Linked DNA regions of Homo sapiens: all the other regions are reported to be linked to region 3. The links are microRNA targets in miRTarBase. Many come from high-throughput screens and were not tested one by one. Region 3 holds a microRNA gene; each other region holds the end of a gene's coding sequence. Distances are from middle to middle.
What was found. The annotated mature microRNA hsa-miR-7106-5p reads UGGGAGGAGGGGAUCUUGGG and lies in region 3 at 2,067-2,086, opposite strand. An mRNA with a match to its seed (bases 2 to 7 or 8) in the 3' UTR can be bound and repressed. Matches are read on the target gene's strand: a 7mer-m8 pairs with bases 2 to 8, a 7mer-A1 pairs with bases 2 to 7 and ends in A, and an 8mer does both.

Region 1: the mRNA of TNNI1 is a reported target of hsa-miR-7106-5p. Seed matches in the 3' UTR shown: 8mer at 1,388-1,395, 7mer-A1 at 1,043-1,049 and 7mer-A1 at 878-884.
Region 2: the mRNA of ING4 is a reported target of hsa-miR-7106-5p. Seed matches in the 3' UTR shown: 7mer-m8 at 3,282-3,288.
Region 4: miRTarBase lists TCF23 as a target of hsa-miR-7106-5p. Seed matches in the 3' UTR shown: 7mer-m8 at 998-1,004, 8mer at 1,187-1,194 and 7mer-A1 at 4,213-4,219.
Region 5: miRTarBase lists COL5A1 as a target of hsa-miR-7106-5p. Seed matches in the 3' UTR shown: 7mer-A1 at 959-965.

What each region holds. Positions count from the first base shown.
Region 1 is chr1:201,406,925-201,411,315 of GRCh38, forward strand. TNNI1 (troponin I1, slow skeletal type) reads right to left here. Exons shown (of 9, transcript NM_003281.4): 8 at 3,402-3,511; 9 at 1-2,326. The coding sequence ends at 3,404. Among named protein-coding and RNA genes, the nearest start is that of LAD1, 9.8 kb to the left of the region's middle. RefSeq lists an enhancer at 1,348-1,427.
Region 2 is chr12:6,647,781-6,652,177 of GRCh38, forward strand. It overlaps ING4 (inhibitor of growth family member 4), which reads right to left. Exons shown (of 8, transcript NM_016162.4): 7 at 3,544-3,605; 8 at 2,521-3,454. The coding sequence ends at 3,415. Among named protein-coding and RNA genes, the nearest start is that of ACRBP, 2.5 kb to the left of the region's middle.
Region 3 is chr12:113,157,087-113,161,483 of GRCh38, forward strand. It overlaps MIR7106 (microRNA 7106), which reads right to left and starts at 2,091; the gene lies at 2,027-2,091. It overlaps CFAP73 (cilia and flagella associated protein 73), which reads left to right. Exons shown (of 8, transcript NM_001144872.3): 7 at 516-604; 8 at 1,615-2,190. The coding sequence ends at 593. DDX54 (DEAD-box helicase 54) reads right to left here. Exons shown (of 20, transcript NM_024072.4): 19 at 4,184-4,296; 20 at 87-2,023. The coding sequence ends at 1,791.
Region 4 is chr2:27,152,428-27,156,777 of GRCh38, forward strand. It overlaps TCF23 (transcription factor 23), which reads left to right. Exons shown (of 3, transcript NM_175769.3): 3 at 261-4,350. The coding sequence ends at 440. Among named protein-coding and RNA genes, the nearest start is that of TCF23, 5.6 kb to the left of the region's middle. RefSeq lists an enhancer at 487-546.
Region 5 is chr9:134,841,455-134,845,851 of GRCh38, forward strand. COL5A1 (collagen type V alpha 1 chain) reads left to right here. Exons shown (of 66, transcript NM_000093.5): 66 at 703-3,389. The coding sequence ends at 849. The region is part of intron 1 of LOC101448202 (a long non-coding RNA gene); the gene reads right to left. Among named protein-coding and RNA genes, the nearest start is that of MIR3689C, 5.7 kb to the right of the region's middle. RefSeq lists enhancers at 685-1,519, 3,831-4,331.

The DNA.
Region 1 (4,391 bases), not on the chromosome of region 3:
GGGCCACTGGCTTAGGTGTGTTGAGTGGGCCCCACCTCCTCCTCCCATGGGTCTTCTGCACCCACGTGTTTGCTTTGAGTCAGGCCCAGAGCAGGTCTCCTGCCTTTACATGACTGGGTGGATACCCCAATCTGCCAGGGCCCCAGGTTAATAGTTGACTGCAAAACTGGGATTTGACTCTGGAACTTGGGGCCAGGCTCTAGGGAAGAGCTGGAAAGAGGTGAAACAAGGAGATCGCTTTGGATCCAGGCCAACCGGAGGAGCCCTGTGAGGCGGGGAAGAGTGGGTTTCTGTGGCTGCCTGGGCATGAAGGCATGAAGCCTAACCCCATCCTCTGTGGCCTGGACCAGCCCTGTCAGGTTCTCCAACTTCGTGCATTGAGACTGGGTGTGTCCGTGCCTACGGGTTTCTGTGTGTGATTGGGGTTGTGCTTTTTGCACACATCTGCCTCTCTGCCCACTGACCTATTTATAGCAAGAACCCTGGGCAGAGTGCTGCTTCCCCTAAGGTAGCCCAAGTTGCTGGTTCCCACTGCCATGCTTTCTGAAAGGGGCTGGCAGCCCAGCAGCCCAGAGAGCCAGACCATGCCCTGGGGAGCAGCTGGCACTGCACTTTGTACCAATTTCTGGCACTTATGGAAGATAATACATGGGATTCGAAGGTAGAATGGGGACTCAGTAGGGTGGGTAGAAGGGTTGCTGCTCTGATAACTCAGCCCCTCCTAGGGCCAGTGCTAGGGTGGTCGAAAAGCCAAGGGACCCCAGGTCTGGGAACAGCCACTTCCCTTGCAGGCTTAGCTCAGAAGTCACCATCCCACTGCCCTGAAAAGTCAGAACTTGACCGGATGTGGTCGCTCACACCTGTAATCCCAGAACTTTGGGAGGCCGAGGTGGGCAGATTACGAGGTCAGGAGTTCGAGACCAGCCTGACCAACATGGTGAAACCCTGTCTCTACTAAAAATACAAAAATTAGCGGGGTGTGGTGGCACGCACCTGTAATCCCAGCTACTCAGGAGGTTGAAGCAGGAGAATCGCTTGAACCTGGGAGGCGGAGGTTGCAGTGAGTCGAGATCGCGTCACTGCACTCCAGCCTGGGTGACACAGCGAGACTCCATCTCAAAAAAAAAAAAAAAAGGAAAAAGAAAAGTCAGAACTTTGGTCTCTGCTTCACAGGAGCCACTCTAGTGAGTATGTTGGGGGAAGAGAGGCTGCCCCAGACCCCCCTTCCACCCCAGAAGGCCCTATGCTCTCACCAGGCTTTGGACCCAGGAGGTAGTGGGATGGAGAAAGGACCTGATCCAGAGGACAGATAAGTGGCCACCCCATCTCCGGGAAAGAATCAGTCCTGGGGGATAGGACCAGTGCAGGAGTGTGAAGGGGAAACAATTGGGAGGAGGGTGGGTGAACGTGGGGAGAGCAGAGGCCGGAGGGACAGGAGAGCCCAGGAGAGAAGGAAGGCGTCACCTGGTGGCCAGGCCTGGAACTGCAAGTATCTCTTCTGTGAGGCCTCCTGCCCTGTGCAGCAGGACTAGGTGAGGGATTGAAAGTGCCCTGACCTCTCAACCCAGCACACATCAGGGAGAGTTAATCCAGGTTTGCAGAGGAAGGAGAGTATGAAAGCCGGCAGGAGAAGCGGCTCTTAATGGAGAGGCCTCTTCTGATGGCCAGAGTCAGGGGCAGGACGGGGTCATTTCTCGGAGGTCAGGGCTCTGGTGAGCTGAGCATCCTGGGTGGTGAGTGTGTGCAGTGTGACGTCACAGGGACTGGGCAGAAGGGGCCCCAGGGGACCCTGGCAAGCAGCCACCAATTCCTTAGCCCTCCCTTCAGATCCCGAGCTCCGGACTGCAGACAGGGTGACTGGAGCCCAGCACAGCCCTCTCTTCCCAAGCCCCAAGTCTTCCCTTTCTTCTCAGGGCTCACAGTCAGAGCTGCAGAAATGACCAGGAAACTGGGTTTTTAATGAAGAAGGTGTGATGCCTGTGGACACTGTACACACATAGAAGGAGTGTGGCACAGGGCTGGAGGAAAGGTGTTCTCACCCCCTCCTCCTCCTCCACTTGTTACACCACGGGGTGGCTGAGAAGCCCCAGGTGCCTCATGGGTGGATAGAAGCCCACCCTGCCAGGGTGAGGTCTTCAGACACTCGCGTTTTTCCTGCCTCTTGGGTATCTGTTTAATCCCAGTTCCAGAGGAGGGCATGCAGGCTGGAGGGAAGAAGTGGGGGAGAGGTGGGAAGGGATGCTCCAGACACAGGCAGAGAGGTGAGTGAGCTGGGTTGGAGAAGAAGCATGAAGCAGGAGCTCAGAGCGCAGCACAGCAAGCTGGCCTGTAGGGACAAAGAGGCAAAGCCATCAGTTCCCGGGGACCTGTGTGCAGCGCATGAATCCCTGACTTACCTACAGCACATGCAGTCCCCAGGGCTTCTCAGCCCTAGCGCACCCCGGACTGGATCTTCATTCATAAGGGCTCCTACAAAACCTCAGCTTCTCGGCCCTCGGGCACAGTTGCTCCCCTTTTGGGACCCCTCACACCGCTCCTCCACACTGCGGCCCTCAGCTCTTACCTAGCCTTGCCATGCTACTCTGTGGCTGCTTAATTCCCACCTCCATGCTTCTGTTGCACCATCAGCCCTTCAACATGCCCTTCCCTTTATCAGCTAACACTCGCTCGTCGCATCCTCAGAGAGCTCCTCCTCTCCAGAAAGCCTGCTCTGACCAGTGCTGTCTGGTGGATGCCTGCCCTATTGCACATTCTCTCAGCACTTCCGTAGAGGGTTTTACGTGGCCTGATTTCCTTGCTTTGCCCAGTTTCTCCAGCTATTTCCTCAGATGGTGGGAAGTCTTAGCTTCTGTGAGTGGTAGCTCCTTGGGAACAGGTACTGTGAGTGCTGGGTACTTCGCAGGGAGCACAAATAAAGGACATCACCAGGAGGTATTTAAAAGTGCATAGATTCTCAGAAAGTCAGAGATGAAGGGATCCCAGGGACCCTCTAACCTAGTGGTTCTCAAACTCTCATGTGCATCAGAATCACCTAGAAGGCTGGCCTCACCCCAGAGTTTCCAATTTAGTGGATCTGGGGTGGGGGCTGATCATTTGCATCCCAGGTGATGTAGACGCTGCTGGTCCCAGGACCACACTTGGAGAACCACTGATTTGATACAGCCCCCAATTTCATAGATAATGGGAACAAAAAGGGCCGCCAAACAGAAATGACATGCCCAAGTATCATGGTGCTGGAGCCAGGACTGAGCCCAGGAGAGCCGACTCAAATCAGTCTCATCGGTGCCTTAGTCCGTGCATCCGTGCACCACACTAAGTACAACCCGCCTGCCCATTGTGGACTCCCTCATTATCCTCTAGACTCTGATGGACCCCAGAGAAGGGAGCTGGTCTCTAGGTACCTCTATTGTGAGGTCGGAGACTTGGCGGCATCAAACATCTTCTTCCGGCCTTCCATGCCAGACATGGCCTCCACGTTCTTCCTCCAGTCACCCACCTCCACAGGCCGCTCCTGTAGACAAGTGGCACACACATCAGGGACTTACCAGGCTGGACGGCCCCCCAGCTCAAGAGAAGCTGGGTGATAGGAAACCAGTCTCCTCGGATGATAAGAAATCCTGATGCCCCTCCCCAGCTGGTAAGGTCCTAGGACTCAGCCAGGCAGGTGGACACAGGCCAAGCCGAGGCCCCACAGGAAAAAGGAAGCTGTGTGGCTTGGGAGCACTGGGTGAAAGTGGCAGCTATGGGGCTAGTTCCCACCTCAGTGCACCTCAGCAAAACCTCCTCCAAGGCTCCATGCCACCCTCCTGGTCTGGCACTCAGCAGGCTCAAGGCCACCTCTTCCAAGAAGTCTTCCCCTGCAAATGCGGCTGCTTTTCCATTTCCTCAGTATATTGTCTGGCTTATCTCTTCTCCTCTGAAGCTTCTTGGGCCAGAGACTGTTCCTTCATCCCTGTTCCTTACAGAGCCTATCAATTTGGGGCACATATACTGTGAATTCAACCAACTTTGAATAATTTGTTGCTGGGTGGTTGAACTCAGTTCTCTAATGTCTATGCTCGTGTGTGGCTATAACCAAGATGAGCTGCTGTCTCCTTTCCCTGTGGTGACCAGGCAGTCATCTCCACCATTACCCTAAATCTCCACATTATCTTCACACTGGGAACAAGATTTTTACTTCATTTCTCCGTCTGGGGTCTAGCTTTCTTTATGTCCTAGTTTCTTCGTCAGACTGGGAACAGCCTGAAGGAAGGGAGCAAATCTTCTTTCTTTCTTCCCACACTGGTCTCCCAAAGCATTCTAGAATGTTCTGTCTGTCAAGCTGACTGGTCTCCAACAGGAGCTCCTGGGCCAGCCTGAGGCCATGTGAGGGGTTGACAAGGGGAAAGCTG
Region 2 (4,397 bases), 110 Mb from region 3:
TTCACCATGCTGGCCAGATGGTCTCGATCTCTTGACCTTGTGATCCGCCCACCTCGGCCTCCCAAAGTGCTGGGATTACAGGCGTGAGCCACCATGCCCGGCCTAATTTTTGTATTTTTAGTAGAGACTGGGTTTCACCATGTTGGCCAGGCTGGTCTTGAACTCCTGACTTCAAATGATCTGCCCACCTCGGCCTCCCAAAGTGCTGGGATTACAGGTGTGAGCCACCGTAGCCAGCCACTTAGCATCTTTACATGCACTACCTTACGTAATTGCCATAGGAATCCCATAAGGTAGATACACTATCATTCGTTTTACAGATGAGAAATCGGGGCTTAGGGAAGCAACTCGCCCAACAAACAGGTCGTGAGGTCTAGAGCTAAGCGCAGGCAGAGATAGAATGTGCAAAACCAAGTCAAGGCCTATCTGGGTAGGAACTAGACAGGGCGCCTCCATGAGCAAAATGGGTCCAAGGGGAAAACAAGAGGGTGGCTCAGTGGTCTACGAAAGTGGTTTCCAAGGGAGAATCGAGTAAGACAGTCCACTGAGGTATGGGAGGAGAACTTTTGCTTTTGTATCTGTTTTGTGTTTAAAATGAGAAATTCCAGCCTGGGCAACAGGGCGAAACCTCGTCTCTACAAAAAGTACAAAAAATTAGCCAAGCGTGGTGGCACGTGCCTGTAGTCCCAGTTTCTTGGGGGGCTGAGATGGGAGGATCGCTTGAGCCCATGAGGCCAAGGCTGCAGTGAGGTGCAATCGGGCCACTGCTCTCCAGCCTGGGTGACAAAGTGAGACCCTGTCCCCACCCAAAAGCAAAAGTAAAAAAGAAAAATAAAACAAGAAATTGTCTTGGGCCAGACTTGGTGGCTCACGCCTGTAATCCCAGCATTTGGGAAGTCAAGGCGGGTGGATTCCTTGAGCCCAGGAGTTCCAGACCAGCCTGGGCAACATGGCGAAACCCTGTCTCTACAAAAAATACAAAAATTGTCAGGTGTGGTGGTGTGCGCCTGTTGTCCCACTTACTACTTGGGGAGGCTGAGGTAGGAGGATCACCTGAGTCTTCAGAGGTCAAGGCTGCAGTGAGCTGAGATCTCACCACTGTGCTCCAGCCTGGGTGACAAAGTGAGACCCTGTCTCAAAAATAAAATAAAATAAAATAAATTAATAAAATAGAGACCAGGCACTGTGGCTCATTCCTGGAATTCCAGCACTTTGGGAGGCCAAGGAGGGTGGATCTCTTGAGGCCAGGAGTTTGAGACCAGCCTGGCCAAAATGGTGAAACTTGGCCGGTGCGATGGCTCATGCCTGTAATCCTAGCACTTTGGGAGACCAAGGCAGGCAGATCACGAGGTCAGGAGATCAAGACCATCCTAGCTAACACGGTGAAACCCTGTCTCTACTAAAAATACAAAAAATTAGCCAGGCGTGGTGGCATGTGCCTGTAGTCCCAGCTACTCGGGAGGCTGAGGCAGGAGAATTGCTTGAACTCGGGAGATGGAGGTTGCAGTGAGCCGAAATCACGCCACTGCACTCCAGCCTGCATGACAGAGTGAGACTCCATCTCAAAAAAAAAAAAAGGGTGAAACCCAGTCTCTACTAAAAATACAAAAATTATGGCTGGTCTCAGCACAGTGCAATCTCTGCCTCCTGGGTTCAAGTGATTCTCCTGCCTCAACCTCCCAAGTAGCTAGGATTATAGGCACATGCCACCACATCTGGCTAATTTTTGTATTTTTAGTAGAGATGGGGTTTTAACATGTTGGCCAGACTGGCCTCGAACTCCGGACCTCAGGTGATCCACCCACCTCAACCTCCCAGAGTGCTGGGATTACAGGTGTGAGCCACCGCACCCAGCCTATTTATTTTTTTGAGACGGAGTCTCACTCTATCGCCCAGGCTGGAGTGCAGTGGTACAATCTCAGCTCACTGCAACCTCTGCCTCCCAGGTTCAAGCGATTCTCCTGCCTCACCCTCTCGAGTAGCTGGGATTACAGGCACCCATGACCACGCCCAGCTAATTTTTGTATTTTTGGCCGAGACCGGGTTTCGCCATGTTGGCCAGGCTAGTCTTGAACTCCTGACCTCAGGTGATCCACCTCCCTTGGCCTCCCAAAGTGTTGGGATTACAGGCGTGAGCTACCGGGCCTGGCCTACTTTAAAAAAAATTTTAAAAAATGAAAAAAAGAAATCAGCTTGGGTGCTGTGGCTCACGCCTGTAATCCCAGCACTTTGGGAGGCCAAGGCAGGCAGATCATGAGGTCAAGAGATGGAGACCATCCTGGCCAACACGGTGAAACCCTGTCTCTACTAAAAATACAAAATTAGCTGGGCGTGGTAGCATGTGCCTGTAGTCCCAGCTACTTGTAAGACTGAGGCAGGAGAATCACTTGAACCCGGAGGCGGAGACTGCAGTGAGCCAAGATCACGCCACTGCACTCCAGCCTGGCAACAGAGTGAGACTTCGCCTCAAAGGAAAAAAAAAAAGAAGTCAAGCTAATGTATAGTATAGCAGTACGTATGTATAGCACAAATACATCATTTATTGGAAATTAAGTGAAAGATGTTTTATGGAGAAAAGATGCATGATTTACAAAGTTTTGGAGACCCCCTGGTCTGAGGCCTACCCTCCAGCACCTCTGTCTTTCCCAAGTTGAGAACTTACAAGTTCTCGGACAGAGGCACCACTCTGGTTTCATGTCGTGTCCTAATTCTGGCATGCCATCCTCTCACATTGCATCCAACCCAGAGGACGCAAAATGAATGCTCAGCATGTTTACTAAAACAGTGTCTCTACAATAAACACAGCAGGCCAACATGTATAGCTTTTATTTACCTACCCAAGTTCCTTTTACATGTGAGTTATCTGCATTCCACCTTGCCCCCTCTCCCAGGATGAATCCTCTTGGCACAGAGGAAGGGGTGCCCCTTCAACTAGGGCCAGAGCCTAGATGACCTGGTGGATCCCCCACCATGAAAAAAGCAGGAAGGGAATGGAGAAGAAAAGTGTTGATCACACCTAGCCCTCACCACAGGAGGGGGAATGAAGAGGTCTGGGGGACTGCCCCCATGCTATGCCCCAGTCCTTAAATACAAAGCAAGGAGAATGAAAAGGACCCTCCCTCTGAAATACAGCACCGACCTCAGCATGGAGGCAAAAGGACAGTGGGCAAGACCACGTCCCTCCGAAGGGAGAGGGCTGAAGGAGAGCACATACCGTTAGTGGCTGCGGCACCCCTCCCTACCAGGGTCTGATGCAGCCTCAGCACCGGGAGTGGGGAGAGGGGAGGAGAAGGGATGACAGCACTGTGCCATCCACTCCTCCCTGAACCCCTGGCCCCAGCACAGGCATTCCTCTGCCCACTAGCCCAAGTCAGGGGATGTGGAAGAAACTGTGTTGGAATCCAAGGCCCTTATCTATTTCTTCTTCCGTTCTTGGGAGCAGCGTGGGCAAAACCTGAAACAGAGAAGGGGAGAGAAAAGTGAGTGAAAGGGAGAATGCCCTTGACCACTCAACTTAGGGACCCTCCAACTCCTGCCACTTACCATTTCCCCCGAGGCTTGGTTGTCAGCCCCACACAGGCAAAATGGAACCACTCAATGGAACACTGGAAGAGGAAGAAAGAAGTAGTCAGGGGCCAGGAAGGGCCAGAGGAAGGAGAGAAAGCCCCTCCAGATTCCTTAGGAACATCCTGTCCTTTACTCCATCCTTTTGGAGAATTCTTGGAAGTCCCAAGGCCAACCAGTTCCCACCATCTTCCTTCTATTCTTTTTTTCTTTTTGAGGCAGAGTCTCACTCTGTTGCCCAGGCTGGAATGCAATGACATGATCTCAGCTCACTGCAACCCCCGCCTCCCGAGTTCAAGCTATTCTCCTGCCTCAGCCTCCCAAGCAGCTGAGATTACAGGCACAGGCTATCATGCCTGGCTAATTTTTGTATTTTTAGTGGAGACGGGGTTTCACCGTGTTGGCCAGGCCAGTCTCGAACTCCTGATCTCAAGTGATCTGCTCACCTTGGCCTCCCAAAGTGCTGGGATTACAGGCGTGAGCCACAGCGCCAGGCTTTCAGGCTTTTTTTTTTTTTTTTTTTTTGAGACAGAGTCTTGCTCTTGTCGCCCAGGTTAGAGTGTGGTGGCGTGATCTCAGCTCACTGCAACCTCTGCCTCCTAGGTTCAAGCAATTCTCCTGCCTCTCGCCTCAGCCTCCCGAGTAGCTGGGATGACAGTCGTGTGCCACTATGCTCAGCTAATTTTTGTATTTTTAGTAGAGAAGGGGTTACACTATGTTGGCCAGGCTGGTCTCAAACTCCTGACCTCACGTGATCTGCCCGCCTCAGCCTCCCAAAGTGCTGGGATTTCAGGCAAGAGCTACTACGTCCAGCCCATCTTTCTTCTATTCTG
Region 3 (4,397 bases):
AGATAAAAAGTTTCCTTCTCAGCTGTTGATACGGTGATGAATATGAGGGGGAGCCCACAGATGGTTGTAAGTTCACCCTCAAGTTCTAGTTTTTACAATGGATCCATGGTATTTATTAAGTTCATATTCATAAAGAAGTTAATTAAAACAAAAGGAGAGCCACCCACGGAGATAAGAGTAGGTCACAAACCAATGAATATGACTGATCCAGTTACAAGAAAATAAAGCTGATTGATGTAAATGAAAATACTAATTGGATAGTGCAGGTGACAGCAGCGAGGAAGCTGTGAAGGTGTCTGCTCACGCAGCAGTTGGGAAGGTTGGCCTGAGGCTTTCAAAACCCAGAACGGTTTAGGATCTCAGTCACCACCTCTGGGAACCACCATCATCACTGTTCTTTTAATGAGGGGATCTCCAGTCCCCGCCCTACCTTTCGGCCTCCCCCGCGTGTTGAGGGGTGGGGGCTGGACAGTGACTCTGGGGCTGGGATGTGACTTCGTGCTGGGCCCCCCCAGGTGAAGCTGTTCATGCAGGACCTCTCTGCCATGCTGGCCGGCCTGGGTCAGGCTGAGCCTGCAGCCCCTGCCTCCTAGCCCTGACACAGGTGAGCAGCGGGAGAGGGAACCCCTGAGAGACCCTGAGATAGGAGGGCCCACATTTCCAATGGGGTGTGGACTGAGTGGCTCTTCCTGAATCCGTTTCCTCATTGGGAAGATGGGAGGGCTGTGCCTGTTCAGAGTGCTGTGGGCCTGCCATGAGGGGCACATAGCAAGCACTCCATAAATGCAGGCCCTGATGAGGAGGTGATGGGAAGGTCAAGGGGCTATGTGTGGGGCAACTGCCTCTAAAATGAGATCAGACCAGGCCCTCCCTGCCAGGGTGGTTGGGGCATGAAAAAAAACTCTTTGTCAGGTCTCAGAACAGGGTCCATGCTAGATGAGAGATCACCAAGGCCCCCTCCACTATGGACTCTGCCAGGTGAGGGGCCCAGCCTGAGAATCCAGCTGCTGGGGCTGCCCTTGACCTTCTCAGAACCTCAAACAGGGGGTGGGTGGCAAGAAGACAGAGGACAGGCCAGGTTCTGACCTCCAGGTGTGGAGGGGCCGCGTTAACCTCTTCATAGCCAGAGGGGAGCAGCTGTGTCCTTGCCCCCTGGGCTGGGCATCCTGTTCCCCTCCCCCAGCCCACTCCCAGCTGCAACCATGTCCAGTGGGAGGAAGGGGGACCAACTCCCGCCTCTGGCACCTGGTTTGTGCTCTGAGCTTCACTTTCCTCATCGCTAAATGGACAAGGCAGCAGAACTCACCCTCAGGAGACCCGCAACTCCTCTGCCACGTTAGCTGGGATTTTAGTACCTGGGTCTCTCCATTCCAGTTCCCCAAGTAGACCGCACTCCTGGCCACCAGCAGTGCTCAATAAAGATTTATTACATTAAAAATTCCATTGCCAAACCCTGAGGCACTCAGGGCTCTGACCGGTGCAGCCATGACCTCTGAACCCAGAACACATGGAAGCAGCAGCAGCTGAGTTGCCAACTCAAGTCTTGGCCTGCCTGGCTTTGCTGGCGAACTCCTGCACACCCTTCAAGGCCCTGTTCAAATGTCTCTGTCTTAGGCTGACGCAGCTGCTGCCCTTCTGTGGCCATACAGTGCTCCTTTTCACAGATGATGGCTCCTGCAGGGAGTGCCCCCAGTGCCCAGCACAGGGCCAGGCACACAGTGGTGCACGGGAACGTCTGCTGATGCCCACCCTAAGGCCAATCAAGGAGCCACGGGGCTGGGTCCTGGTCCTCACATCCTCTTCCGCATCTTGCCCTTCTTGGAGCGGGCACCCCGGCCGAAGGCGCCCTGCTGCAGCTCCTGGACGCGGCGGCGGTTGCGGGCAGAGAGCTGCTTGAGGCCACCACGCTGCAGGAAGTGCAGCTTCTGGGCCCGGCGCCGCTGCTTCAGGATCTGCTGCTTGGTCTTGAGTTCCGGGCGGACTCGGCCTGCAGGGGTGCCTGGGGCGTGGGGCCGGGATGCACCTGCTGGGACAGGGATTCAGGGAGCTCAGCTGTTGGGATCACTCCCAAGATCCCCTCCTCCCAGAAGCTTGCAGACTCCTCCCCTGCCCCTACTCCTGTTCTGTGCTTATTGCTGTGGCCCAGTGTCTGTACACAGTAGGTGGCTAATAAAGTTTTAGGCAGCCTCATGGAGTGGTCAATAACACGGGGCCAGAACCGCTGGGGTTCAAATCCCAGCTGTGACCTCTTGGACCGTGGGCAAGAAGTTAACGGCTCTGTGCCTCAGTTTCCCCATCTATGAATTATAAATCACAGCACCTCCCTCATGGGTGAAGAGTAAATGCATTTCCATGGTGTAAAGTGGTCAGAATTTCAAGGCCTGTCCCATAGTGGGAGCCTTTTGGGCATGACTGTTACTATTAAAAATTCTCCAACCAAGGAGTGTATGTCTCCACAGCACACCTACGGCACGCCAGGCTCTGAGGCCCCCCATAGTAACCGATACAGACCTCAGCCTCTGTCTCCATGGACACCATGCTCTAGGCTTGTTAGATGAAAAAAGAGTGTAGATGAACCTTCCTTTAGGTGGGAGAGGAATCAAAGAAGGCCAGAGAGGGAGAGGGACTTATCTGAGATCACACAGCAAAGCAGCAGCAGCAGCAGAGGTCAGCGACCCTGCCCCAGCCCCACAGGTGGGCATCAGGTAGTCCATTCTTCTAGTTCTCCGGGAGGCAAGCACCACCCTCCCTGGCTCCCACTAAGCCCTGTGTCCTCCTCCTCCTCTTCCCCATTCATAACAGCAGCCTCCCCAGGGCTCCTAGAGGGATGACCATTAAGGTGGTCCCAGCTGTCTCCAATGGAGCCAGGGTGCCTCGCAGGACCTATCACCTCCAATGAGGACAGCAAAGGAAGAACAGCTGCTTTTTCCCAAAGCCCACAGGTCGCCCCCGTCTCCCCAGCCCCTGCACGCCCACTGCACGGCAATGCTCGCAGCAGAAGCTGCTGTTTCACCTAGGTAAAAACAGGCTGAGAAGTGAGGTGTGGGTGGTCCCCACCCAGCCATGCTGACAAGGAGACACTCCCACAGATGGGAGAGCTGGAGAGGGAGGAGCCACAGAGAACAGGCCCAGGCAAATGCACGCAGGCTCACAGAGACACCCAGGGGAGGCAGTGACCAGCCCCAGGAGGTGGAGGGACACAAGCAGGGGCTAAGGCCATCTGAGAGAGACCCAAGACATGGTCCCAAACTCCCCTCTCCCCAGGGAAGACTCCAGGTGGGAGCCTTGGGCAGCTGGGTGACCCAGGTTCAGTCATAGCCCTCATAAGGCACCTGTTTCCTGGCCTGTAAAATGGGTATTCGCAGTCACCTTGCCTCCCAGGTCATGTGTGGCCTTCCAGGACAGAGCCTGCCTGCACCCAGCAAGCGGGAGCCCCTCCCTGATAACAGCCCTTAAGCACAGGCTCTGGCAGACAGAGCCGGCTTCAAATCCACCTTAGCTTGTTACTGGCTGAGGGACCCAGGCCAGATCAAAGAGGTCCAAGTCCTCAGATGACCAAATGTACCACTTGCCAACCCACATTTCAAGGAAGTATCTTCCTCAACATCCCCTGTGATCGCCTCCTCCCAGAACCAAAGCTGCTTCTGACTGCGTCTTTGGTGACATGAACTTCCCCACAGCATTGCTAAAAAGAACGTCACTCCTAAGGATGCCACAGGGAATCAATTCATGCTCACTGTCAGGTCGAACCACATGCAAATGCCATTTTTGCAGGTGAAAATGGCCTGCATTTGCACAAGGTTCCACCTCCCGGGTTCTCTAGGATTTTACACAATCGGCTTAATTAGGTGAACAGGGCATCTACCAGAAGTTATCCCTGTAGCTTCATCTGTGAAGTGGAAGGGGGTCGGGGACAAGGCACCTGAGGGGCATGGCACTTCCCAGCGCCTGTCAGGCGGTGCTCGTGACCATCAGAGGCCGGGACAGTAGGAAGGGGGAAACTGTGGGTGTGGGGGTTGGGTGGGGGGGATCATGGAGGGACCCAGGGTTTTGGCAGCATACCCCAACACACCCAGCTCTGGGGCTCTGCAGTAGCCCCTGCACCTGTGCCTCAGCGTTACCCTAATCTGACCACAACTGCTCTGCCTACCTGTGCACCCACACTCCCCACCCTGGCTCTCACCTTGGCCACGGTCTCGCTTCCCACCTCTTCGCTCTGGGCCTCGCCGGTCAGATGCCCCTTCTTCGTCCGAGTCACGATCATCAATTTTCTGTTTCTGTTTCCACTTCTGATAGCTGGGAAACCTCGTTAAGGAAGCTGCGTGAAGCCCCTGGGATGGGAGAAGGCTCCTCCCCACACTGCCCCAGCAGACAGAGTTCCGTTATCCCAGCCGCAG
Region 4 (4,350 bases), not on the chromosome of region 3:
ACCTCCCTCCCAACAGAGCGCTGCTCTTCTTGGGGCCCTCTCCCTCCTCAGATGGCTCCTCCTGTGTCTCTCATCCAGGCTCTGGGTGATCAGGAGAATGTGTGGGGCTGTACATGATGATGACCCTGATCAGAGCAGTGATGGCTGGGGAAGGTGTCAGGGAGGGATGCTGGAGAAGGCTGGGTTTTGGGTGTCAAGGATCCTGGACCACGAAGGGCTGCAATAGCAGCATTTCTCACTTCCCAATCTGTGTCTTGCAGAAGTGGCCGATGCGATCTCGTCTCTATGCTGGAGGCCTGGGGTACTCCGATCTTGACTCCACCACAGCCAGCACCCCCAGCCAAAGAACAAGAGATGCAGAGGTGGGGTCCCAAGTCCCTGGAGAGGCAGATGCTCTCCTTTCCACCACACCACTCTCACCAGCTCTTGGTGACAAATAATTATCACACTCGCCCTTTTCTCCTAGACTGTGACTCATGCTTATGGGCCTGGATTTTCTACCAGCCCCCAGATTCTCAGCCATCAGACTTGACTCAGACTCAGCTCCCAAGTTCCAGCATGCAGACCAAGAGAAGCAGTAGCACTTCTGTGATGGACAGTACCTAGAGGGGCACAGGTTGGAGAGCCTCCTCCTTGGTCCCCAGGAGGGGACTTCCCCATGGCTCTTCTGTGACAGCTACTGGGAAGTGGGAGAGAAAGAGGTATAATTGGGCTCAAAGTTGAGGTAGGGAACCACCCTAGCTTTCTTCCCCTAAGGTTTCTACAAACCCTCTGCAGATAGCAAAAAGGCAGGTGCAGAGGGAGGGGCCTGGGATGGCACCAGCCCCAGGTGCTGATGGGAAAGCCAGGTGGCCGGATAGGCTCCTGGTAGCTCCAAGTGTAAACAGATCTGGGCTGGGTCACACAGCCAGAGGGGAAACTGAAGAAGGAAATGTGCTTTCTAACTGCATCATGAGATGCTTACCTGATGTTAGAGAGATAGTGAGGAATTCAGGATTCCTCCCTCTGTAGTATGGGCCTTTCCAGAAGCTGCCCCTCACCACTACATTTTCTCTCCCTCTCGGCTCCTGCACTCTTCCACTCTTTTCTTTTCTTTTCTTTTCTTTTCGTTTCTTCTTCTTTTTATGTAGAGATGGGGGTCTTGATATGTTGCCCAGGCTGGCCTCGAACCCCTGGCCTCAAGTGATCCTCCCACCTCAGCCTCCTAAAGTGCTGGGATTACAGGCATGAGCCACCATGCCCAACCCCACTGTTTTCTTGACATGAGTTATATCTACAGGTTAAGCCATACATCTTGCATTGCTTACATTCCAGTTTCCAGAGAAACTTTTAGATAGTCCCAGATGCCTAGTTTGAGATCTTAACCAGAAGCAATTCTACCTTAATTGAACCAAGCAGCAACTTATGGCCTTAAATATGAAGGATATTGACAGAATCAATTACATCCTTGAAGGACCTTAAGAGAAGATCAGGTATATAGGGGGTGATCATTACAGTCTTCTCTTTCCATTATGTTAGAAACCTGCCCTCAAGCAAAAACAAGATAGGCCTGCCTTCAACTGCTCAACCACTCAATTGGCTCCTTGTAAAATTTGTGTTCGAGGCTTCCCTGGCTCTGGAGTTATTTCTATAGTCTATTAGCTCCCTAGGGCCGGCTCCGCCTCATGGAGATCGTCCTTGGGGGCTTTCTCTAAGTCCTACCATGGGGTGCCAGAAATGTGATATAGCTTCGGTGAAACTCATCTCTGGCCCTAAAGAAATAACTTGAGGACTAATCATAGAATCTACACACACTGAAAATAACTTTCCAGATCGGATGTAGCCTCAAACCTGGCACCTGAAGTCCAGATGGAACAAATTACCTTTCGGTTAAATTTCAGCCCTTCAGAGTGGGAGGGGACGGGCATGACCAACTAGAGTCCCAACAAGGTTATCCTTAGACACACACCATTGTTGTTATCATGAATGTAAGTGAGCTCTGGGCAGGCTGGGAATGGTTGGGGTCTGGGTTCTGGCATGACAGGACCCTGTACCTCCACAGGGCTGGCCAGGGCAGAGCTGAAATAGGGCTGGGGGTGCGACTGAGCCAGTTGTGGTAGAGGTAGAAAAAGAGACACAGAACATCCCAGCCCCGAGCTGCCTGGGATGTGGGAGAACAGCTGGAATGTGGATGGGAGCCATGGGGAGAAGGCCTCGGCCAAGGCTGAACTCGTAAATCTGCCTTGAACCACGTCTCTGCAGAGGGACCCTGAAGAGCTTGTGCAGAGCTGATGTGGGCAGCTGGACAGGGCCAGGCAGGGGCAGAGGCCAGGTGTGGGAGGGCATGAGCACAGTGTTCTTCACAAGACCATAAAAGTCCAGCTAGAATGTACTATTTTTAAAGCCAAACAGCAGTATCTTCCTGGTTGAGTTCACGGGAGTGCTAGGAAGAGAAGCAGATACATTTCCTCCTCAGTTGGTGGCACACTTTCCTGGGGATGAAGGGAAATTGGCTTGGGGTGTGTGTCGGGGTCCTCTGGATAGCATGGAGCTTCTCCTGATAATAGAGTAGACTTTGGGTTGGAGCTTGCCCCACCCTGTCCTGCTCAGACTCAGGCCTTTGCCTAGTAACATTAGAGCCCTCAGGGGTGACCGCATGGCCCTGGTGTAGACAAGGAGGGCACAGGAAGGATGACGCAGGTGGAGGGCTGCAGGAGGCAGGTCCCATCGCTACAAGTTTCTCAGGGTGTCTTGGGCCCTTTCCAGGCAAAGCTGTTCTCCTTTGTGCCCAGGACAGTCGAGGGGGGTGGGGCAGAGGCCATCTCCTCCAGCCACAGAGACCCAGCCCCGTCAGGCCAGCAAGCAAAGGGGCCTGGCAGGGGGCAGGGTGAGCCAAGGGAAGGCCTAGGGGATGGATGGGAATAACCAGAGGATGGACTGGGCCCTCCCTCCCTGACAAGCACAGTAATGCCCTTGAGACATGTCAGGACTTGGATGCGTGAATGAACCAGAAGTAACCCGCTTTGTCTCTGCAATGAGAAAGAAAAACACAGCCAGGCTCAGTGGCTCATGCCTGTAATCCCAGCACTTTGGGGAGTCGAGGCGGGCGGATCATGAGGTCAGGAGTTCGAGACCAGCCTCGCCAACATGATGAAACCCCTTCTTTACTAAAAATACAAAAATTAGCCAGATGTCGTAGTGGGCACCTGTAATCCTAGCTACTTGGGAGGCTGAGGCAGGAGAATTGCTTGAACCTAGGAGGCGGAGGTTGCAGTGAGCCAAGATCACGCCACTGCACTCCAGCCTGGGCGACAGAGCAAGACCCCATCTCGGGAAAAAAAAATGAAAGAAAAAAAAAGAAAAGAAAAGAAATAAAAGAAAATATGGATGAAAACATTTGAGCATGGATGACAAATGACACTAGGGTGGCCTGGCTCAGGAGTTGGAGGCTCAGCTGCTCCATAGGGGATTGGCCTGGCCTACCTGGTCTTCCTGCACCACCTGCCCCATCCCCAGGACTTGGGATTGGGATGGAGGTGGAGGTGGGGAACAAGACTTCCCTGCTGGCTCCCTCCACAGAGCATGTGCTTTCTGAGGAACAGGATGGCAGGGTGGAGGCTTAGATGGGGCTGTGGGGCTGGGTGTGGTGGCTGATGCCTGTAATCCCAGCACTTTGGGAGGCCGGGGTCGGGGGTGGATCATCTGAGGTCAGGAGTTCAAGACCAGCCTGACCAACATGGTGAAACCCTGTCTCTACTAAAAATACGAAATTAGCTGGGTGTGGTGGCACATGCCTATAACCCCAGCTACTTGGGAGGCTGAGGCAGGAGAATTGCTTGATCCCAGGAGGTGGAGTTTGCAGTGAGCTGAGATTGTGCCATTGCACTCCAGCCTGGGCAACAAGAGTAAAACTCCGTCTAAAAAAAAAAAAAAAATGCGGCTGTGGGAGAAGCAGAGCTGGCCCAGTGATTTCTTTTTTTTTGTTTTTTGAGACAGAGTCTCACTCTGTCACCGAGGCTGGAGCGCAGTGGCGTGATCTCGGCTCACTGCAAGCTCCGCCTCCTGGGTTCACGCGATTCTCCTGCCTCAGCCTCCCGAGCAGCTGGGACTACAGGCACCCGCCAACACGCCCGGCTAATTTTTTTTTTTTTTTGTATTTTTAGTAGAGACGGGGTTTCACCATGTTAGCCAGGATGGTCTTGATCTCCTGACCTCGTGATCCGCCCGCCTCGGCCTCCCAAAGTGCTGGGATTACAGGCATGAGCCACCGCACCCGGCTGGCCCAGTGATTTCTAAGTAATACAGTGGACACTGGATTTTACCAAATTGGGAACTAGAGAAGTAGAGGATCTAGCCTTCTCTGAGACTCCT
Region 5 (4,397 bases), not on the chromosome of region 3:
GGGTTGTGCTGTTTTGAGCAAGGGATGGGTGCTGACTCATCCTGCAGGCCAGGTTCATTGCACTACCCCTGCCCTCTGTGCCTCAGTTTACCTAAGACTCCTCTAGACCAGATGGTGTGGAAGGTCCCCACCCCTTCCCATACTTGTGGAGGTGAAGACCCAGCCCACCGAGTGCCTAAGGCAGTGTGTGGCAGGTGGTCGTAGGGGGGTCTTACTTGGCTCAAGGCTCTGCCGGTGCCGCCTCGGACTCCTTCCTTTTCGAACCTGGAGCCCCCGTTTGATTTTCCAGTGTGCCCTGCTTGTTCTGTAGCTGGCCCTGGGTCCTGGGGAGGCTGCCTGGAAGTGAATACCTGGGGCATCACAAGGAGTCTGGACTGGGCACGGTGGGAAGGCTGATCAGCTTCAATCCTGTGTGTGCCTCAGCCACCCCTGAAGCCTTGGGAGGGTCCTGTCGCCTCGCTGATGCCCACACCACCCCACCTCCGACCTGTGCAGGGGGACTCTTGGGACATCCACCGGGGTTAAATGCATGCTCTGATCAGCCATATTTCCTCCAACACTTGCCCGGGCAAGCGCAGCCCTGGGTAGGAGACAGGACACCAGCCTGGGTTTTGGAGCCAGACAGATTGTGGGGGGTGATTGGTAAACCCCAAGACCCCCAACTGTTCTTAACCACCGGCCATCTGTCTCCCTCTTCCCCAGACCAAGAAAGGCTACCAGAAGACGGTTCTGGAGATCGACACCCCCAAAGTGGAGCAGGTGCCCATCGTGGACATCATGTTCAATGACTTCGGTGAAGCGTCACAGAAATTTGGATTTGAAGTGGGGCCGGCTTGCTTCATGGGCTAGGAGCCGCCGAGCCCGGGCTCCCGAGAGCAACCTCGTGACCTCAGCATGCCATTCGTTCGTGAGTGTCCCGTGCACGTCCTGACCCTGGACAGTGAAGGCTTCTCCCTCCCCTCCCACCTGACTTCATCTACGCCTCGGCACCACGGGGTGTGGGACCCCAGCCCGGAGAGAACAGAGGGAAGGAGCCGCGCCCCCACCTGGAGCTGAATCACATGACCTAGCTGCACCCCAGCGCCTGGGCCCGCCCCACGCTCTGTCCACACCCACGCGCCCCGGGAGCGGGGCCATGCCTCCAGCCCCCCAGCTCGCCCGACCCATCCTGTTCGTGAATAGGTCTCAGGGGTTGGGGGAGGGACTGCCAGATTTGGACACTATATTTTTTTCTAAATTCAACTTGAAGATGTGTATTTCCCCTGACCTTCAAAAAATGTTCCAAGGTAAGCCTCGTAAAGGTCATCCCACCATCACCAAAGCCTCCGTTTTTAACAACCTCCAACACGATCCATTTAGAGGCCAAATGTCATTCTGCAGGTGCCTTCCCGATGGATTAAAGGTGCTTATGTTTTTGTGAGTTTTAAGTAAATATTTGTATTGTATTGTTATAAATGTTAAGTGTGCCTGGCTTTCAATCATGCACGGAAACCCAGTCTCAGTCCCACGGACAGAATGGGCGAGGCATGGATTCTGGGTTGCAGTACCGTTCTGATTAGAAATAGGAAGTCTCCCCACCCCCGCCCTGGCCAAGAACGTGCAATAAATTGGAAGTTTGCCCCGGGGCAGCAAGAATTTATGCTGCCATTGAAAAGCAGGTACCAGTGCCCCTTTTCAGACAGTTTTTGATTCGCTCTAGACTTTTTTTTTTTTTAATAGGGAAAAAATTTGATAATTTTCTTTTTTCTACATGCACTTAAGACTAAAACACAGGTTTGGATTAATTTTATTTGCTTCCTTTTTCCGCTTTTCTTCCCGCAGAGCCTGATGGGAGAATGTCCAGGGCAGGGAAACCACATTTTTTGTAGGTGATAACTCAATGAAAATTGGTGCTTATTTTTTACACTTCTCTCTTGTGGCTCTCTTGTGGTGCTATCTATCTGTTTTAAGGTCTCCTTGAAGGCGCACTGGGGACCCTGGCCATGCCTCGTTCTCCCTGCTTTCTTTATCCTGTTATTGCCTCCACAGTCTGTTGCCAAGGACTCTAAGATCAATGCACGTCACTTTCCTTTCCACTGGGCAGGATAGCCAAGCACACTCCCTCCTGCGCTCTCCCGCCCCGGTGCGTCCACTCCCGAGGGCTGTTATGAGGACTGGGTTGTGCCTACTTGATTTGAAAACACACACAAGCAATAAAAAGCCTCTTCCTGCATTGTCTGTGGTGTGACCATAGCAGATTATATTTGGTTCCTGAATGTTTGTGGTGCTAATTTCTGTGTTTGTTCCAAGCCGTTCAGTCATGCCATGCGCTGCCTCGGTAGATGGAGTAATGTACAATGAACTCCATGAGTCTCTCCAGGGCTGCCTGCAGCACGTCTTTTCCAAGTAGCCTATTTGGATTCCCATCTCAAATGTCCTGGATGCGAGCGTCAGCGGCTCCAGAGCTCGGGGCGGGTGAGGTCCCCTTTGGGGAACCCTTTCCTGGCCATCGAGGTCGGGGGGCTGCCGTCTGTGGGCAGGAGGACCCGAGGGGCAGCCAGGAAAGGCGATCTCTTCACTGTGAAAAGTTGCCCGGGTGCAGCGCCTTTTCCTTCTACCATGGGAAATGCAGGCTGGGCCCTTGGGGTGAGCCTGCGGGGCTCTGGTGCTGTCCCCGACCCCCACCACCACCAGAATGCAGTTCCAGCTTAGGAAGCCACAAACAAGCCACCCAGGAGGAACAAAACACCGCCAGCGTGGATTTTCCAAATTTCCCTGGAAAGTAAGTCTCGCTCTTGCCAAAGAAAAGTCTGGCTTGGAGAGTCTCTGGAGCCCAGGATGCCAGCATGTGCCAATGACTGTCACCTTCATCTCTTCAAAAGAAAAGCCATAGCCGAGGACTGTCCCGCGACCCCCGTGGACTGCGTCTAGGTCATGTGATTCTGTTTTCATTTCTCATCCCATCCAATTTGTCCTTTTCTCCTGTCATTTTCTTCCTCTGTGGTCCCTTCAAAGTTGTTATAATTTGTACTGAACTTCAAAATGTGTCCCGTTCTCCCCAGACCACTCTAGCCACAGTATATTGCAATAAAATTACTTCTTATATTTGCAGAAATTCTTTTGGTGTAATTTTATTTTTTCCTCTCAATATATATAATTGGACAAACGCTGGCAAAAAGAAAAAAATGGTAAGCAAAAAACCCAAGATAAAGTTTCGAGGACATCAGGCCTTTTGAAATACAATGTCAAATGACACATTGTACGGTTTCAAAAAATCCGCTAGACATGTCATAAGTTTTAACTGTAATGCCCAGGAAAGGATATCTTAAAATATTCTAAACTTGTGTAACAAAGGAATAATTAACTGTAATAGTTTTTCAATAAATCGAGTTGGGTGTTTCCACCGTAAACAGATGTGAGTGACTCTCTTCTTAAGTGTGGCCAGGCCCCTCCCAGACAGGACTGCACACAGTCCCAGGACGCTAGGAGCTCTGGAGATAACCACACTGGCCACCCAGAGAAAGGAAGGGATGGCCCCGGCTGTCCTTAGGTGGAGCTTGTCCCTCAGGAGTGGCCAAGGCTGGCATGGACAGCTTTGTGCCCTTGGGAGGATGTTAGAACGTAACCGGGCACTAGCCCGAGAAGTGAGTTTCAGCCACTGCTGGGTGTCCACACCACCGTGTACTGTCCTCACTCTTCACTCCTGGCAGTCAGCACCCTGCGAGAATGTTCTTGAAGCTCTCCAGCACTGCCCTTCCAGCTGTGTAGCAGGATTAGACTCCCTAGCTCCTTGTGGCTAGAGGTCGGGGAAGGCACGGGGCTCGTTGCAGCCGATGACCTTGAGCCCACGTGGCATTCGCCTCTTCCGGTCTGAAGGTGTGGTTCCCTCGGGCACAGCACCAGCCATGTTTCGTGGAGGGGCTACGTCACCAGCAGGTTCCCTGAGTGAGCCCCCTGCCAGCTTGTGAGAACTGGTAGCAGGAGCAGGAGAAGCACATTTTTGTTTTATTAAAGCCACTGATGTCAGGGACTGTTGATTACTCTGCCGAATAACCTAGGCCAGTGGGTCTCCAGCAGGGTCCGGGGAATGGCAGCAATGGCACCACCTTGTTAGAAGTGCCAGTCCCTGAGCCCCATCCCAGACCTGCTGGCCCAAATGTTGTGGGAGAGCTGAATCATCTGAAAGCAGGTCTCTGAGCAACTCTGCTGCACGTTCAAGCCGGAGAGCCAGTAACCTAGGTGATCCGGAATTGTGTAGGTGCTTAAGGACGAGGCGACTTTCACAACAGAAGGGTGGTCTGCAGCATTGCCCAGGGAAGCTGGGGCCATTGTGAGAGGATGGGAGGCTGTTGACCCATGTCATCCACAGGCAGAACATTGGGTACAATTGTTTGATCACTGTGATAGCTCAGAGGTAG